Linked DNA regions of Homo sapiens: region 1 is linked to region 2. Evidence: fine-mapped expression QTL. Tissue or cell type: thyroid. Region 2 holds a variant in brackets; the other region holds the start of a gene. All regions are shown on one strand. Distances are from middle to middle.

The links. PIP is the estimated chance that this variant, and not a neighbour inherited with it, causes the effect.
Region 1: it holds the start of C2CD4C, and the variant in region 2 is the best candidate, but not a certain one, in a credible set for the expression of C2CD4C in thyroid (GTEx, PIP 0.54).

The regions. Positions count from the first base shown.
Region 1 is chr19:406,424-411,788 of GRCh38, reverse strand. C2CD4C (C2 calcium dependent domain containing 4C) reads left to right here and starts at 2,642. Exons shown (of 2, transcript NM_001136263.2): 1 at 2,642-2,783; 2 at 3,388-5,365. The coding sequence starts at 3,428. The coding sequence ends at 4,693. LOC124904607 (proline-rich proteoglycan 2-like) reads left to right here. Exons shown (of 2, transcript XM_047439790.1): 2 at 229-2,267. The coding sequence starts at 333. The coding sequence ends at 1,496. RefSeq lists enhancers at 3,899-4,779, 4,780-5,365.
Region 2 is chr19:382,638-388,002 of GRCh38, reverse strand. It overlaps LOC124904606 (a long non-coding RNA gene), which reads right to left. Exons shown (of 3, transcript XR_007067071.1): 2 at 3,274-5,365; 3 at 1,322-2,879. Among named protein-coding and RNA genes, the nearest start is that of SPMAP2, 9.3 kb to the right of the region's middle. RefSeq lists enhancers at 252-816, 817-1,382, 3,461-3,580, 3,142-3,668, 3,661-3,860 and 4 more. The variant T/C (reference allele first, on the strand shown) is at 2,853.

The DNA of each region.
Region 1 (5,365 bases), 24 kb before region 2:
GATTCAAGCCCTGATTGACCAGCTCTGGATTTGTGTCCTAGCATGGAGACAGGCATAGTGTAAACTCAGTGCCTCATCCCCCAACCCAGCTGGCAGGAGAGGCTCTGCCCCCACCTGGGCTGGGCAGGGGTGCCGGAGAGCGAACCCCCAATACCTGGGGCTGGCCTGATGTCAGGAGACCCGTCACTGCCCCTTCCTAGGACCCAAGCTGTCCGCTTCCCTCCCCAGGCCCTGCTGTCCTTGTCTGCAATGGAGGAGGGTGGCTCTGTGGCCCCTGAGGCCCCCTCTCCTCGGGCCTGCTGAAAGAGCACTGTTTCGGGGCCATCGTGGCGATGCTATTCACCCATTTGTTTGGCAAATGTTTACTGGAGACATGGCTGGCCTGTGCCTTGGGGCCACTACAGGGACAGGACCTCCAGGACCCTCCTCCCGGCTCGGGCCCAGCAGAGACGGTGGACAGACCCCCAGGATCCGGGCCCAGCAGAGACGGTGGACAGACCCCCAGGATCCGGGCCCAGCAGGGGCGGTGGACAGACCCCCAGGATCCGGGCCCAGCAGAGACGGTGGACAGACCCCCAGGATCCGGGCCCAGCAGGGGCGGTGGACAGACCCCCAGGATCCGGGCCCAGCAGGGGCGGTGGACAGACCCCCAGGATCCGGGCCCAGCAGGGGCGGTGGACAGACCCCCAGGATCCGTGCCCAGCAGGGGCGGTGGACAGACCCCCAGGATCCGGGCCCAGCAGGGGCGGTGGACAGACCCCCAGGATCCGGGCCCAGCAGGGGCGGTGGACAGACCCCCAGGATCCGGGCCCAGCAGGGGCGGTGGACAGACCCCCAGGATCCGGGCCCAGCAGGGGCGGTGGACAGACCCCCAGGATCCGGGCCCAGCAGGGGCGGTGGACAGACCCCCAGGATCCGGGCCCAGCAGTGACGGTGGACAGACCCCCAGGATCCGTGCCCAGCAGGGGCGGTGGACAGATCCCCAGGATCCGGGCCCAGCAGGGGCAGTGGACAGACCCCCAGGACCCTCCTCCCGCCTCAGGCCCAGCAGGGGTGGTGGACAGCAGCCCAAGGGTATTCTGCATGGCAGCTGGAGCTGGGGTTCGGGGGCCCTGCTAGTCTGTGGTGGGGCCTGCCCAGGCTTCCTGGAGGCGGCGGCGGTGAAGGGGAGAATTCCTCGGTGTCTGCCTCCTTGTCAGACTTCGGGGCTGCGTCGCGGTTGCCCCAGCACAAAAATGAGGGCTCATCAACGTTTGCTGGGTGAGCAAAGCTTAGATGGGGTCACAGCTCCTCCGGGTTTCACTTTCCCCTCTGGACGGCAGGACTCTAACCCCTTATTGCAAGGGTACGTGGAGAGTGGGGAGGCCTCAGCCCAGCTCTCTCGCCCTCCTGGACCCCTCTTCTACCACTGTGGCAGCAGCCGCTCCTCCCAGCTTGGGCCACATCCAGACTTGGGGACATTCCCAGAATGCAGGAGGCTCCTGGACAATCAATAATTCAATAAAGCGCCAGGCGTCCGCCGGCTCCGGGTTGGTCCTGGGGATATGTTATCTTGCTGGCTCCAAGCACGAGGAGGCTGGGAACTGCTCAGCTCGGTTCCAGAAGAGGAAACTGAGGCGGGGAGGGCAGGGAGGGAGGGAGAGAAGGAAGCAGTGAAGGCCGGGGCTGGCAGATCACGAAGCAGCTGGCAGGAGGGGGGTCGGGGCCTCAGGAGGGGGGGACCCTGTGGTCTCAGGAACTGCCAGGAAGCCTGGGTTTGGACCTGGTCTTGCCCCCTATGGGTTTCTCCATCCGTGAATCACACGCATGTGCCTTCTCTCTTCGCCCCGACCCTCACGCTTTCCTGCTGTATTCCTGTTCCGGGCGTCACCACCCCTGCAGTTCTAAGCTGCACCTGTACGCTCTGTGGGCATCCTGCCCCTGCATCACCAGGGCTGGGGCCACCTCCCTCCGTCCCAGCTGTGTCCCCGGTGGCCAGGTCACTGTCCAGCATCAAGCGGGTGCTCAGGAAACGTTTGTCCATGAAATGAAGGAGCCCCCCCCTTCCAGGCTTCTTGTAGGGCTGCTGAGAGGTTGCCCATTTAGTAAGACCTGCTGTCCTAGCTGTTCGGTCCTTGTTTCTGGAAGGAAACCCCCCACCTTCCTCATCTACAGATTGAGAATTGCAGTAGGACCTGCGTACTGGGTTGTGTGAGAGTCAGAGACCCGCCAGGACGCTGGGAGGCTGGCAGGGAGGAAACGCTCCATCATAAACCCAGCTGCATTTATTACTGTTGCCGTCATTTAATTCGTCGTCGTTAGTCGGGAAAGCTCCTCGCCGGCAGCGAGTAGGGGGTCTGGGACCCTCTTCCGGTATACGGAGGCAGGGGCTTGGGAGTCCGACTTCCCGGAATCTGCGGGCGTGAGCGCCGGGGGTGGCCGTCAGCCAACCGTGACCACCTGCTTGTCTCCCACCGGCCCCCAGTCAGCCCCCGGGCCCTGGCGAGGCTCCTCCCTGCCACCAGCCTCCGGGGGCTGCGGGGAGACGGCCCCACCCCCTTCCCGCGGGGGCGGGGGCGCGGGCGCGGGCGCGGGCGGCCGTACTCGGAGGAATACGGCGGCGGCGGCGGCGGGGCTGGGCGGTTTCCCGCCGCGGGTGAATGAGTCCGACTGCGCTGCCGCCGCCGCCGCCGCCCGCATCGAAGCTCCGGCCGCGTCCCCCGCGCCAGCCCCGGGAGCCTGCGCGCCGAGACCCCTGCGTGTCTGCGAACAGACCTCCGGCCTCGGGCCATCACCCCGGGCAGGTAAGTCCGGGGACCCCGCCCGGTCTGCGGGGACCGCCGGGACCCCACCCCCCACCCCAAGCGGAGTCGGGGAGGGCTGGGGGCGGGGGGACACCGGGGAGTCGACTCGCTGCTCTCTCGGCCCCAGACCTACCGCCCCTCCCTTCCCCCACCCCGAACGCCTGGCCCTCCGGTCCAGGGAGGAGCCACAGGTGGGTGGGAGCCGGGGGGGCGGAGCTGGGACACCCCGGGGGTCCACCCACATCCGTGTCTTCCCCTGGGACTGAGCGCGGAACCCTTTGGAATGAGCGCTGAGATGCTCAAAACCAGAGTGGGGGCGGGCGAGGGGCCAGTCTCCTCTGGGAGCTCCCCGGAGAGTCAGAGCGCGGCCCCCACGCCCCTGGGCTTGGTGCTGGGAAGTTAAGCGGGATCTCTCCGGAAAAAGGTGGGGGGAACCCGCCTCACTCCTGTCCTGGGCCGCCGCGCCTGGGCGGGACGCCCCCAGGGGACCCCTCCACCCCCACCCCGCCGGCAGGGCCCTGCCGGGAGGCCCCACAGGGAGCAGGTGCCCAGGGCCCTCTGCCAGCCGCCCCCCACTGCTCCTGACCCCTGCTTCTCTTCCCAGACGCTGCAGCCCCTGTCCGGGCCTCTTGCCTGCCGCCCCCATGAGAAAAACCAACATGTGGTTCTTGGAGCGGCTTCGGGGGTCTGGGGAAAACGGTGCTGCCCGGGGCGTGGGGAGTGAGGCGGGGGACAAGGCCTCCAAGGGGCCCCTGTACAGCAATGTGTTGACGCCCGACAAGATCCCCGACTTTTTCATCCCCCCCAAGCTGCCCTCGGGCCCCGCGGAGGGCGAGGGACAGGCCGCGCTGGGCCCCTCCACGTCGGAACAGAACCTGGCCTCTGCGGCCCCCCGCCAGACCCCACGGAGCCCCCGGCTGCCTGCCAAGCTGGCAGCCGAGAGCAAGAGCCTGCTGAAGGCAGCCACCCGGCACGTGATCCAGATCGAGAGTGCCGAGGACTGGCTGTCCGAGGAGGCCACTGACGCCGACCCCCAGGCCCAGGGTGCCATGTCCCTGCCCTCGGTGCCCAAGGCCCAGACGTCCTACGGCTTCGCCATGCTGGCTGAGAGCCCCCACACGAGGCGCAAGGAGTCTCTGTTCCACAGTGAGCACGGGGCTCTGGCCCAGGTGGGCTCCCCAGGGGCCGGGCGCCGCCGGGCAGCTGCCAAGGCCAACGGGGGTGATGGGGGCCCCAGGGAGGCTGGCGGGGCCCTCATGAGCCCCGGCCGCTACTTCAGTGGCGGGGAGAGCGACACAGGGTCCTCGGCCGAGTCCTCCCCCTTCGGGTCCCCTCTGCTGTCCCGCTCCGTGTCTCTGCTCAAAGGTTTCGCCCAGGACAGCCAGGCCAAGGTGAGCCAGCTCCGGCACTCCGTGGGCCGCCACGGCTCCCTGTCTGCGGACGACAGCACCCCGGACGCCAGCCCCGGGAGCCGGCGCCGCCTGACCCGCCGGGCACCCCCGGAACCTGGCCCCGAGTCGGGCCAGGCGCGTGGGGAGCACACGGTCCACGTGGGCCCTCGGGGCAGCGTGCGGCTGCTGGCCGAGTACGAGGCCGGCCAGGCCCGCCTGCGGGTGCACCTGCTGGCCGCCGAGGGCCTCTACGACCGCCTGTGCGACGCCCGCAGCATCAACTGCTGCGTGGGCCTGTGCCTGGTGCCGGGCAAGCTGCAGAAGCAGCGCAGCACCATCGTGAAGAACAGCCGCCGCCCCGTCTTCAACGAGGATTTCTTCTTCGACGGCCTGGGGCCCGCCAGCGTCCGGAAACTGGCCCTCAGGATCAAGGTGGTGAACAAGGGCAGCAGCCTCAAGCGGGACACGCTGCTCGGGGAGAAGGAGCTGCCCCTGACCTCCCTGCTCCCCTTCCTGTAGAGCGGGGACCTGCTCGCTGTCCGCTCGGGTGCAGAGGGCAGACCCCGGTCTCTCCTCCACACCGGGTGCTGGCGGGCGGGTCCGCTGGCTTGGGCTGGGGCTGGCCGGGGAGGGGCTCACACTCAGGCTGGGCTGGGCGCTGATGCTGTAGCTGACGCAGGGTTTCCTGGGTCACCCGATGCTGACTGGAGTATTATTTTTCATGAATTAATTTCTCCTTTGGAGGAGGAGGAGGAGGAGGAGAGGGGCCTCGGGGGAAGAGAAGGGGCCACTTCGCGGGGCAGAGGGTCCCCCTTTGCCCCTCCACACTGCCTCGCGCCTTTCACGCAGAGTTCTAGAAGGAGGTTCTCAGGGGTTCAGGAATCCGTGCATGTGGCCAGGGCGGGGCCGTGGACAGGGAGGTGACAAGTCTTGGAGCCCACAGTCTCCTTCACTGCACGTGTGTCTTCCTCCCCCACAGCCTGCCGCCATCCAGTTCCCACCCCGCGGAGAGCAGGGCCTCGCGGCCACACCAGGCCCAGGCTCTGCCCGGGACGCCCCCTCCCAGGGGTCAGGCTTGGCTCTGGGAGACCCCAGCTTCCCAGGCTCCGGTGGGGAGTGGGGCCAGGCGAGGGTGCCCTGACGAGGGTGGGCGCGGAGGGAGCAGCCGCTGCCACAGTCGGAGCAGAGGAG
Region 2 (5,365 bases):
TGAGACCCTGATGTGTACTCGAGGACACACGGCCGACGCTGAGACTCAGAGCCCCTGTGGTCCCAGCTACTCGGGAGTCTGCGTTGGGGGGATCGCTTGACCTCAGGAAGTTGAGGCAGCAGTGTGTGGAGATTCACTGTTGCACTCCAGCCTGGATGACAGAGCAAGGCACTGCCTCAAAAATAAAGAAATACATAAATACTGAAATTTTTAGGGGTGGAGGTGCATGACATCTACAACTTAGCTTCAAATGTTCAGGAAAAAACCGACAGGAGGATAACACAGGGCGGCAGGTCGTTCACAGCGGGTGACCAGGTGAAGGACACACAGAGTTCTTACTGGGACCTTAAAGCCAATTTGACCTGTGAAGGGGTGGGTTGCCCCTCCATACCTGTGGGTGTTTCTCGTTAGGTGGAACAAGAGACTTGGAAAAGAAAAAGACACAGAGACAAAGTATAGAGAAAGAAATAAGGGGACCCGGGGAACCAGCGTTCAGCATATGGAGGATCCCGCCAGCCTCTGAGTTCCCTTAGTATTTATTGATCATTCGTGCGTGTTTCTTGAAGAGGGGGATGTGTCAGGGTCACAAGACAATAGTGGGGAGAGGGTCAGCAGACAAACACGTGAACAAAGGTCTTTGCATCATAGACAAGGTAAAGGATTAAGTGCTGTGCTTTTAGATATGCATCCACATAAACATCTCAATGCTTTACAAAGCAGTATTGCTGCCCGCAGGTCCCACCTCCAGCCCTAAGGCGGTTTTTCCCTATCTCAGTAGATGGAACGTACAATCGGGTTTTATACCGAGACATTCCATTGCCCAGGGAGGGGCAGGAGACAGATGCCTTCCTCTTGTCTCAACTGCAAGAGGCATTCCTTCCTTTTACTAATCCTCCTCAGCACAGACCCTTTACGGGTGTCGGGCTGGGGGACGGTCAGGTCTTTCCGTTCCCACGAGGCCATATTTCAGACTGTCACATGGGGAGAAACCTTGGACAATACCTGGCTTTCCTAGGCAGAGGACCCTGCGGCCTTCCGCAGTGTTTGTGTCCCTGGGTACTTGAGGTTAGGGAGTGGTGATGACTCTTAACGAGCATGCTGCCTTCAAGCATCTGTTTAACAAAGCACGTCTCGCACCGCCCTTAATCCATTCAACCCTGAGTGGACACAGCACATGTTTCAGAGAGCACGGGGTTGGGGGTGGGGTCACCGAATCTCAAGGCAGAAGAATTTTTCTTAGTACAGAACAAAATGGAGTCTCCCATGTCTACTTCTTTCTACACAGACACAGTAACAATCTGATCTCTCTTGCTTTTCCCCACATTTCCCCCTTTTCTTTTCGACAAAACCGCCATCGTCATCATGGCCCGTTCTCGATGGTCGCTGTCTCTTCGGAGCTGTTGGGTACACCTGCAGACTAACAACAGACAAAACAGGCACACAAGGATTAATATGAGATTTATAATCATAGAACTTCCGATGGTCGTAACCCAAGCGACAGGGTTAAGATTTGCGAGGCCATCAGCCACTCCTGCGATTGCCTCCATTCCTGGCACCAAATTTAAATGGGCTTTTGATGCTTCGAAAATTTGTTCTTTCAATTTGGAAATGTCTAAAGTGAGATTATCTTCTCTTCCCTGTAGATGGCGTCTAACTATGTCCTAGTGATGCTCAGACTCATTATAAATTTGGGGTGTAATACAAAAGTCTGACGTATTCCAGTCACACTGTAACTGGAAATAATGTTCTAAGCTCATGAGCCTGTCTCCCATCCAAATGACAGGTTGTCTAAGATCATTATTTGATTTGCCAATTTTTGATCAATACTAGATTGTGAATTCCATAATCTTGTAGAATTTTTTTGCCAATCATTAAAAGTTTACCGACTGAACAGAAGAGTGCAATGCAACTCCTGCTACAGCAGCCGTAGCTGTGACTGCAATTAATCCCATAATCACTGCAATTAAAGTAAAAATGAATCTTTTGGATCTATTTAAAACGCCTTTTAATACTTCAGTCAAAATACGGACGGATGGCAAGGCCTCCTGCGGTCAGTCCGTGGACACGGGGACCCACACGCCCTCTCTTGCCCTCCCCAGCAGAATACGGTGTTGCCAATTAAAAGTCAAATCAATGCAAGTAAACAATCTGCAGTTTTCACAGGTTATAGTTTGAGAGTCTGGTTTAATAACTATATTTCCTACAACTAGCATATAAGGGGGGGCTTTACGCAACTTTGTAAAGGAACCGTTGGACTGGAATTTAGGTGGATAGTATAAAATGGCTTACAATCTCTTGTTTCTAAAGTTTGATTTCCAGACCAAATTCTAATGTGGTGTGAGGCCACAGTAAGCCTCCATAATTCTGGATGTTCAGGACCAGAAACAGGACTTATTATTTTTGGTCTTGGGGTAGAGATTCCTTTTTCTCCCCATACCCAAGGGTAGAAAGACTGTAATTTTTTATGCTTATGTTTGTCTAGAGTTTCTGTTAAGTCGCTATCAACAGCTGGACTCACTTGTGCACTTGGACACGACCGAGTTTGTCCTGAGCAACTGTGGTAGAATTGACTCGAGGTGCCCAATCTATAATAGTTCCGAATTCATTGTTTTGTAATATCACCGCACTATTGGCCACACATTCTTTCCAAACTAAAACTTCTGTATTTTTTGATCCTTTGGGAATTTCCTTGGGGCAAGGTTTCCCTATAGGTCTAAATTTTAATGATCTTTGATAAGAAAAGTCTTGTAAATAATTTACCCGTGGCCTGAGTGACATCCCGCTTACCATGTGATAAGTGAATCTACTGATGGGACTGACAGTAGGTACTTCCACCAACCAATTTTGGACTG[T/C]AGGCATTAAACATCCTGGTGCTTTCCCTAGGCAAATAGGAGGATAACGATAACTATGTTTGCCGACGTGACCTCAGTGACACAAAGAAACCTTCTGCCCCCACCTCCCTCCCAGTCACAGCTCACCAGGCGCCTTCTGCCCCCACCTCCCTCCCAGTCACAGCTCACCAGGCGCCTTCTGCCCCCACCTCCCTCCCGGTCACAGCTCACCAGGCGCCTTCTGCCCCCACCTCCCTCTCAGTCACAGCTCACCAGGCGCCTTCTGCCCCCACCTCCCTCCCACTTCATCAGTTCCAGGGAGCTTTCTTTCAAAATGATACTACTTTTCTTGAAAGTTCGCAATTATTTCAAAACAACAACACAAACAAAGCCAGAAAGGCATGCAAACAAACAGCAGTGAGAACAAAACAAGGTTACTAACCAGCTCCTATGCTCTGCCCCAGGCTTGGGCCTGCTCTCTCTCTGTAAAAACCATTGACAATGCTGGGGACAGTTGAACTTTCATTTGCACCAAGCTGCGACTTTCCCCTTGGGGTAGCCAGGACTGGCCCTGAAGGAAAAGGGAAGTAATTTCTCATCACAGTATTTGGTGTTCTGTAGTCTGGGCCTTGTGTTGCTGGCGGCACCTGGAGGGCACCGCTCCGAGCCCCTCCTCTGGGAAACAGGCTGTGAATTGTGGATGACACCGCGGGTCACTGTGCGAGGGAAGAGCACGGTTGTGCCTGTACCCAGGGGAAAGCCCGGCCCCACCCGTCACCCTCGTCCAGTGACATCTGTGGGATTTCTCCTCAGCCACGACCAAGGCTGTTCTGTTCCCACCCAACACTGCGAGAGCAGGCCCGGAGGGAGGTGGCAGCGAATGATCTAGGTTCTGCGGGAGCTGACGTGGGTTCGCGCCCGGTGCAATCCCGGGCCAATGCACTGCCTCTCTGAGCTCGTTTTCTCCTTGGTGAAACGAGGGTGGTAATGGGGAAAGCCGCCCTCGCAGGACAGGCTGTGGGGACGATTCGGTTCGGGAGCCCTCGGTCCAGGGTTAATCCTGGCGAGGGGAGACCAACTGCCCTTGACTGCGGCGGCAGCTGGTGGTCGCCTGTGGTATTGCTGCCTCCTCGCCGGGGGCCGCGGGCCGTCACTCACTCTCGAGGCTTCCTGGAATTCTCTTCTGCACTTTGGGAGGCCGAGGCGGGCGGATCACTTGAGGACGGGAGTTCGAGACCAGCCTGACCAACACGGAGAAACCCCAACTCTACTAAAAATACAATTAGCCAGGCGTGGTGGCGCGCGCCTGTAATCCCAGCTACTCCGGAGGCTGAAGTAGGAGAAATGCTTGAACCCAAGAGGCGGAGGTTGCGGCGAGCCGAGGTCGCACCACTGCACTCCAGCCTGGGCAACACGAGCGAAACTCCATCTCAAAAGAAAGAAAGAAAGAAAGAAGTTCTGTTCTGAATGCTGCTGGAAGTCCAGGCATGAACAAGATAAATCACAGTCTCCACCCTATTGGAGCACATATGCTAATGAGATAAAAAGACAATAAATATGTAAAAAGTCAACACAAAGCAAGATCATGATACATGCAACTAAGCAAACAAACTCCCCATAGATTTAGGTAGAAAAATGAGGGGGCCCTACTTTAGACGAGGTGATTGGGGAAGGCTTTTTGGAGGAGGTGATATTTAAGGAGAATCTGGAAGGAGTCATGCCCCTGAATTGGGAGGGGGTTACTGAGCCCCGAACTGAGCTGGCGTGTGCAGCAGAAAGGCCCGCGTGGCTATGAGAGCAGGCCTGAGAGAGGGACAGGGGAGGGGACTAGCCTGGCGGGCCTGGGGAGGGAGCCAGGCAGCAGGGGGTCTCCATCCTGAAGTAGAAGTGCTGGGGGCCCACACCCCCGACTTGGGTGGCTCTGACCACTGGGAACAGGAGAAGGGTGTGCTTCCGTTGTGCGTTGCTGCATGACACGCAGCCCGGCCAGCAGTTGACGGCGGGCATTCGTCACTCTTCGTGATTCTGCGTTCTGCGCTAGGACATGACCTCACTAGGCAACAGGAACTTTCCAGCTCCGTCACAATCTTACACAGCTGTTGTGGACCGAAACGAGGTATGCTGCTGAAGCTGTAATAGGTGCTCAGCAGAATCAGCCATGCCTTCCCTCTGTAGGCTTAATCTGGAGTTGTTTCAAAACGAATCTGCCATTTTAGAGACTGGCGAGAGTGAATTTGAATGCGACTTCTTCCCCTTTCTCCTCTCTCTCCTCCCTCCGTTTTCTTTTGCAAGGACCTTAGGGGCATAAAATTAGGTGAACCATAATTATTTCCATCCACCCATTCATTTACCCATTCACGATTCAACCATGAGCTCATTACCCAACTGGAGAATAGGAATGTGATCAACCACTTCCTGCCACAGCCCCAGCAACAGCAACACCTAATACATCTGCTTATGAATCACCACGGTTCTGCTCCACCTCCTACATCAGCTCATCACCACGGTTCTGCCCCACCTCCTACATCTGCTCA